2 linked regions of the Homo sapiens genome follow. The protein of the gene in region 1 interacts with the protein of each later gene in a pairwise test. Each region holds a gene or a part of one and is shown on either strand. Other genes may lie near its edges.

The links.
Region 2: the proteins of HCK (region 1) and SKAP2 interact in a protein complementation assay, tested with the Homo sapiens proteins (one study listed by BioGRID).

What each region holds. Positions count from the first base shown.
Region 1 is NC_000020.11:32,055,085-32,058,911, reverse strand, and holds part of HCK (tyrosine-protein kinase HCK), read right to left. Parts: intron 1-3,827. UniProt on the Homo sapiens protein: Non-receptor tyrosine-protein kinase found in hematopoietic cells that transmits signals from cell surface receptors and plays an important role in the regulation of innate immune responses, including neutrophil, monocyte, macrophage and mast cell functions, phagocytosis, cell survival and proliferation, cell adhesion and migration.
Region 2 is NC_000007.14:26,739,078-26,742,904, reverse strand, and holds part of SKAP2 (src kinase-associated phosphoprotein 2), read left to right. Parts: intron 1-533; exon of another isoform or gene 534-563; intron 564-2,940; coding exon 2,941-3,018; intron 3,019-3,827. UniProt on the Homo sapiens protein: May be involved in B-cell and macrophage adhesion processes. In B-cells, may act by coupling the B-cell receptor (BCR) to integrin activation. May play a role in src signaling pathway.

The sequences.
Region 1 (3,827 bases):
ACAAATACCCCGGTTCCCTCACCTCTCAAGCCTGTTCTACCCTGGCTCCCAGAGCTCCTCAGTGGGATTGAGCTCCAGGTGCCCGCAGTGGTAACTGGGCTTAGAAGACACCTTTAATGACTACCTCCTGTTCCCTGCCTCACTTCCTTACTCCCCTAGGAGGGTCTCTGGAATCAGCTCTCAAACTATTTGCATTTGAAACCTTGCCTAGGGTCTGCTTCTGGAGAAACTCAAACTAAGACATATACGCCATGATGGACTAGTGTGTGTATGTGTGTGTGTGTGTGTGTGTGTGTGTGTGTGTGTTTTGACATAAAAGGAATTGTGCTGCAGGAATCATGAGTAGTATCCTCCTCAGTTCTCCCCCTTTTTTTTTTTTTTGACAGAGTCTTGCTGTTGTCAGCCCAGGCTGGAGTGCAGTGGCAAGACCTTGGCTCACTGCAACCGTGCCTCCCGGGTTCCAGCAATTCTCCTGCCTCGGCTTCCCAAGTAGCTGAAATTACAGGCGCCCGCCACCACGCCCGGCTAATTTTTGCATTTTTAGTAGAGACGGGGTTTCACCATGTTGGCCAGGCTGGTCTTGAACTCCTGACCTCAGGTGATCCACCTGCTTTGTCCTCCCAAAGTGCTGGGATTACAGGTGTGAGCCACCGTGCCCAGCCTCAGTTCCATTTTTTTTTTGGATTTGGGAACTGAGGCTCAGAAAGGGAAGAGATTTGCCTAGTGCATCACAACCTGTCTTTGGCAGAGCTGGCACTCAGACTCGGGGTCGTCTACTGTACTGTACCCACTGTTCTTCATTTCTATGGTAGAGATGAGGCTGGGATTCCTGTTCTCTTGGCTGCACTTACATCTCCTGGGCCAAAGGATTTCAGGGTGATGCCTGGAACTCAGGGAGGTGACTCGAAGGGAGAGTCAGGAGCGCACGTCCTAGCGCAGTGCCATCCAGAGGATGCAGCATGTGGGACCACAGCCGGGGCCAAGACCAGGGCACATTTACACTTAAGCACAGGCTGCTTCTGCATCATTACCCACGCCTCTGAAAGTACCTTCAAACTCCCAGTCCTGTGGGGGAGGAAACTGGAGAAATGGGGTGGGGACCAACATGTGGTTGGTGCATGTGGTGGGGTTTGTTTAGAAAGGCAGAAGTGATTGCTTGATGACTTGTGGTATAAAAAAAGAAAAATAAACAACAACAAAAAGATGTAAGAAAGAAAGAGGCTGAGAGAGATTGTGCTACTAACTTGCTGTGTGACTTTGGGAAAGTCAATTACCCTCTCTAGGCTTCACATTCCTTTTCTTTTCTTTTTATGAGACAGGGTCTTGCTCTGTCACCCAGGCTGGAGTACAGTGGTGCAGTCTCAGATCACTGCAACCTTCACCTTCTGTGCTCAGACGATCCTCCCACCTCAGCCTCCTGAGTAGCTGGTACTACAGCCATGTGCCACCACACCCAGCTAATTTTTGTACTTTTTGTAGAGACAGGGTTTTGCCATGTTACCCAGGCTGGTCTCGAACTCCTGAGCTCAGATGATCTGCCTGTCTCGGCCTCCCAAAGTGCTGGGATTACAGGGTGAGCCACCGCACCCAGCCCTTCATGTTCCTTTTCTATAAAAAAGGAAGCCTTGTCATGACCCGAAGGGTGGGGTTTGAAAACTCAAATGACTATAGGGATGTGGAGGGTTCTGCGGATGAGGAAAGTGGGCCTGGCAAGGGCTGTGCAAGCTGGACAGCCCAGGTGTAGCCCCCAGGGCAGCCCCCAGCTCCACTGAGGTTGTCTGAAGAGCACTGGAGTCGTGGGTTCTAGTCTCAGGGCTGCTAACTCTTCTAATGTTTTAGGAGACAGAAATCCAGATTATGTGAGCTCTCCTGAGTTTAAATGTTAGCAACTAATTAAAAATAATCGCTGCGGGTGGAGGGGTGTTCGGGGAGGGCAGCTGAAATATCTCAGGCAAGGGAGGGAGGAGGTTGTCCAACATTCATTGCGTTTGTCCCATCAGTGTTTTTTTGAGGCCCTACTATGTGCCAGGTGCCAGGTGTTAGAAGATACAGTGGTTTATAGGACAAACATGTTTGTGCTCTTGTAGAATTTACTTTCTAGAAGAGTTTAAAGTCCAAGCCCTGGCTAGTCCTTAGAATGTAGACAACTTTCTCCTTACTTTCTGAGGTAAGAGCCCTCAGAGGGCAGCCTGGTTTGAATGAGATTAAGATTCGTGCTTTCTGTACCCATTAGAATGGTAATAATAATACTAATAAAATATAAACATAGTAGGCATTGGCAAGGATGTGAAGCCAATTGAAACCCTTGTATATTACGGTGGGAATGTAAAATGGTGGAAAACAGCATAGCAGTTCCTCAAAAAGTTAAAGATAGAACTACTGTTTTTTTTTTTTCTGAGAAGGAGTCTCGCTCTGTCGCCCAGGCTAGAGTGCAGTGGCTCGATCTCGGCTCACTGCAAGCTCCGCCTCCCGGGTTCATGCCATTCTCCTGCCTCAGCCTCCCGAGTAGCTGGGACTACAGGCGCCCACCACAATGCCCGGCTAATTTTTTTGTATTTTTTTAGTAGAGACGAGGTTTCACCGTGTTAACCGGGATGATCTCCATCTCCTGACCTCGTGATCCGCCCGCCTCAGCCTCCCAGAGTGCTGGGATTACAGGCGTGAGCCACCGCACCCGGCCACAGAGATAGAACTTTTATATGACCCAGTAACTCTACTTCAGGTATATACCCAAAGGAATTGAAAACAGGTGCTCAAACAAATACATGTATGCACATGCATGCTCATAGCAGTATTATTTTCAATGGTCAAAATGTGGAAACAACCTGAATTTCCATCTGTGGATAAATGGGTAAATAAACTGTGGAATATCCATACAATGGAATATTATTTGGCCACAAAGGGAATAAAGTACTAATAGTTGCCACCATGTGGATGAACCTTGGAAAACATTATGTTAAGTGGAAGAAGCTAGACACAGAAAGTCACATAGTATGCTTCTATTTATGTTAAATATCCTGAATAAATTAGTCCGTAGAGGCAAAAAGCAGATTGGTGGTTGCCAGGGGCCGGGGGAATGGGGGGTAATTGCTTAATGGGTACAAAGTTTCCTTTTTCAGGGGTGATGGAAATGTTTAGGAGCTACTGACAGGTAGTGTTTGTACAACATTGTGAATATACCAAATACCACTGAATTGTTCGCTTTAAAAATCATATAGTTAATTTTATAAAGTTATGTGAATTTCACCTCGATTAAAATATTTCTAAAAATTTTGAACTATATAAAAGATTGCTCTGCTAGAAAGGTTAAGCAAATTATAATACAGGCAAACAGTGGAATATTATGCAGCCACTAAAAATTTAAGAACATTTTAATGACCTGGAAAATGCTACAATGTAATACTAAGCAAATAAATAGGATAAAAATAATCTATGTGTAGCATTATACTAATTATGTTAATTTAAAAGTGCATAGAAAAGACTACATAAAGATACATGAAAATATTGGTTATTGTTCCCTCAAAAGGTTCATGCTTCCATTTTCTTGAACACTTATTAAGTGCCAGGCATAGTGAGTAAGGCAAGTGAAGTGCCTTACAGCAGAGAACATGAGGCCTGAAAGAAAGGCCATTGATCCAGAGACGGCTGGGAGATCAGCAGAGCAACATTCTTCTCTCTTCTCTGCCCCAGAGTCCCTGGTGACCCTTCTGGGCTACAGTACTCCTCTCACACAAAGGGGAGTGTGACAGGTGCCCTCTCTGGGGAGCCATCCAGCCTTTTGGTGTTTTCCTCAAGAACCACCTGTACATGGGCCGAAAGCTACACAT
Region 2 (3,827 bases), on another chromosome or scaffold:
TCATATTTTTTTAAAAGGAAATTACTACTTTTTTATATATTATAACAGATTTTCCATCCCTGCCATCAGAAAGTATTGTCCATATGCTCATGATGATATACAAACCAAATGGTTCTTCTGAAAATTTAAAAATCTAAAGTGTTTACAGGGATTGCTATTAGTGTACTTTTGTGTTTTAAAGAATTCATATGGCTATTAAGCAAATCCTGGATATTGGACAAACAGCAATAAAGGTTTAGAAAAATGAAATTTCAGTTAAAAAAAATGTACTCCCCCACTCCCCAGGGAAGAAATCAAAGATTTTATATTAGAAACATGAATTTAGAATTCAGAACAAGTATTGCTTATGACATCAAATTTTATTGTGATGTATCAGGTGGAAATTTAGTCAACACTTTTCTTAAAGCAAAAGACTCAGGCTATGTGTATATTGAACGCTAGTAAATTCTAATTTCCCTTCTCCTTTTCCTTTTCCCCCACTTCCTCTCCCCTCTCCCTTCTTCCCATCTCTCTCTGTCTCCTTTTTGACCAGTAACATTTTAGAGTTGAAAGCTATGCTAAAGGTACCCATTTCTTTTCAGAATAATTTAACTTTTCTTAAGATTTTGTGAGCATCCATTCCTTATGTAAAGAGCATTTATTATGCCCAATGGAAGTGAGAGGGTTGTGGGACTACCCCTTAATGAGACCAGATCATTCCACAATTATCCACTTTAGATTAGTGGTTCACCAGGACTTGTTTACAGAGATAAGATTTCTGTTTGTAATTTTTGTTTTATGTACAAAATCCTATAATAAATAATTTATACCTTTATATGTACCAAGTTTATTTTGAAAAAAACTGGATACATTTATTGAACAGCTATTAAAATATGTACACTGACTTTCCCTAAAATTTCATATACATTTCAAAATCAGGGCTCTATTTTAAATATGTTTTAATGATACTGTGTGGTGTTTACTGGGTGAAGTTGATCCACCAAGGAGCTGAAATTAGTGCTCTAATTTTAAGCTTTATTTCTTAAGAAAAAATATCCATGACTTTATCACTACTGTGATCCCCATGGTATTAAAAAAAAAAACTGGTAAAATTAGGTGATGAGTTTGTAAATAATAAACTTCCTATCAAACCCATTCTTTTTTTTAATTTTTAATTTTTGTGGGTACACAATAGGCAAATTTATGGGCATATTGTATGTTTTGATACAGGCATACAATGCATGATAATCACATCAGGATAAATGAGGTATCCATCACCTCAACCATTTATTCTTTCTCTGTTACAAAGAATCCAATTATATTTGTTTAGTTATTTCATTTTATTAATTTATTTATTTATTTATTTATTTATTTATTTATTTATTTAGAGACAGGGTCTCACTCTATTACCCAGGCTGGAGCGCAGTGGCACAATCATGGCTCACTGCAGCCTTGACCTCTTGGGGGATCCTCCCACCTCAGACCCCCTTCCCCCCACCTCTACCCTCCTCCTCCACTGGCTGGGACTGCAGGCGCGTATACCACTACACCCAGTTATTTTTAAATTTTTCGTAGAGATGGGGGTCTCACTGTGTTACCCAAGCTGGTGTCAAACTCCTGGGCTCAAGCGACCCTCCTTCCTTAGCCTCCCAAAGTGCTGGGATTGTAGGCATGAGCCATTGCACCCGGCCACTTAGTTATTTTTAAATGTACAATAAATTATTGTTGACTATAGTCACTCTGTTGTGCTATCAAATACTAGATCTTATTCATTCTAATTACATGTTTGTACTCAAACACATTTTCTATCCTAAGTTGTACTGAAACTATTTCCACTGGATGTATTCCATACAAACTTTCTTTTGATTGGTTGTTTTCACTTGCTAGAGTTCTAGTAAAATGCTGAGGATAACTATTATATTTCTTTTCTTTTCTGTTTTCGTTTTTTTCTCTTTTTTTTCCCAGGCTGGATTGCAATGGCGTGATCTTGGCTCACTGCAACCTCTGCCTCCTGGGTTCGAGTGATTCTCCTGCGTCAGCTCCCAAGTAGCTGGGATTACAGGCACCCGCCACCATGCCTGGCTAATTTCTTTTGTAGTTTTAGTAGAGACCAGGTTTCACTGTGTTGGCCAGGCTGGTCTCGAACTCCTGTCCTCAAGTGATCCACCCGCCTCGGCCTCCAAAAGTGCTGGGATTACAAGCGTGAGCCACTGCGCCCGGCAGATAACTATTATATTTCTAATGAAGTTTATAAAAATATTGAACACTTGTAAAATTGAGTAACCTATAATCCATGACCGTGAATATACAATTTCTAATCAACTTAACTTTTGCTTGATTTAAAAACTTTTTTTAGGGATCCAGTATTTGTTTATAATAGTTTTATCAGATCTGTCTAGTTTTAGACTCTTAAATGCCCTATAAAAACCTAAAGCATACTCACTCAGTGGAATGTCCATAACATTTCTCTGAATACAAACACAGAGAATATTTGCTGTGGGCTCAGAGAAACAAGTTTCAGCATTTGATTCGGAAAAGCATTTTATGTTTTACTTGGTAGGAATAGGGATTATGCAGGAAAGAGTCAATATGTATTGAAATTTTTAAAGAGTTAATTCAATATAAATATAACGAAGCTATGATTTATTTGAAATTCTTAACCTCTCTTTCAGGGATTTATTGCATTTATTTATAATAGTTTCTCAGTCCTGTATTTTGGGAGGCTATAATAACATATAGGAGTACAGAACTTTTTTTTTTTTTTTTTTTTTTTTACTTTTGAGACTTTTAGGAGGAATAGAGGGGATTAATCTAGGGAATGGATCTGAAACAAAGCTAATAGACTTAGATTTAAACAATTTCAGTAATTAAAAGCACACTGAATCTAATGAGATCTGGCACTTGTTTATTCTGAAATGGATTACCCACTGCTTTTTTTTTTCTCTCCCCAACTTCTCATAGGAGCCCAGTTTCCTCCAATTGCAGCACAAGACCTTCCTTTTGTTCTAAAGGCTGGCTACCTTGAAAAACGCAGAAAAGGTAAACTGAAGGTTCTAATGAAAAATGTAAAAATAATTTCATCCTTAGATAGAACATGTTTGTAGTATACATGTGGAGGCAGTATTCGTTTTAGGTGATTAAAGAGTTTAAAGATTGTAAGAAAATCTGGATGACATTATCCAAACCACAAAATATAGCTCTTAGCTTTAAATAATTTTTAATAAGAAAACATTAGGTTAGGTTTTTAGTTGTCAACCTTGGTTATTTGTAAATGATTCAGGAGCTGTTTCCTGCCTCTCAAAGGAAAGCTGCAGGCCATGACTGTATTCTCAAAGGTGGGATTTCTCACCAGTATCTCAATGGGCTGAGCAGCAGGTTCTCCTATGCCCAAACTGGCATGCACCATGGTTCAGATCAAGCCTGGAGTTTTGTCTGCCATTGTCTATTATTCATTTCAGTGTTCCTCTCCATTGGCTATGATAATTGGGAGTTGACCATATGGTCTCACTCTTTCAACACCAATATTTAATGGAAATGAAATATGGAGGTGGTTTTATAATATGAGAAATGAAAAGCAGACAGTCTTTTCATTACCATTCTGCTTATCTCTCTTGTAGTCCCTTTAGGCCTTTCTATTTATATTTCATTTTGCTTTTCTTAGCTTTCTTAGCTGAATTTTAAAACTGAAAGAGATAACAGAAATAATCTAGGTTAGCTCCTCCCCTTCTTTTTATAACAGATGAGAAAATGAGACCCAGATGGATCAATTATCTCAAGACTGTATAGTCAGATACCTTTTTGACTGTCCCTGTCAGAAAACTTTGTTAGCCATGCTGTTGATCCCATAA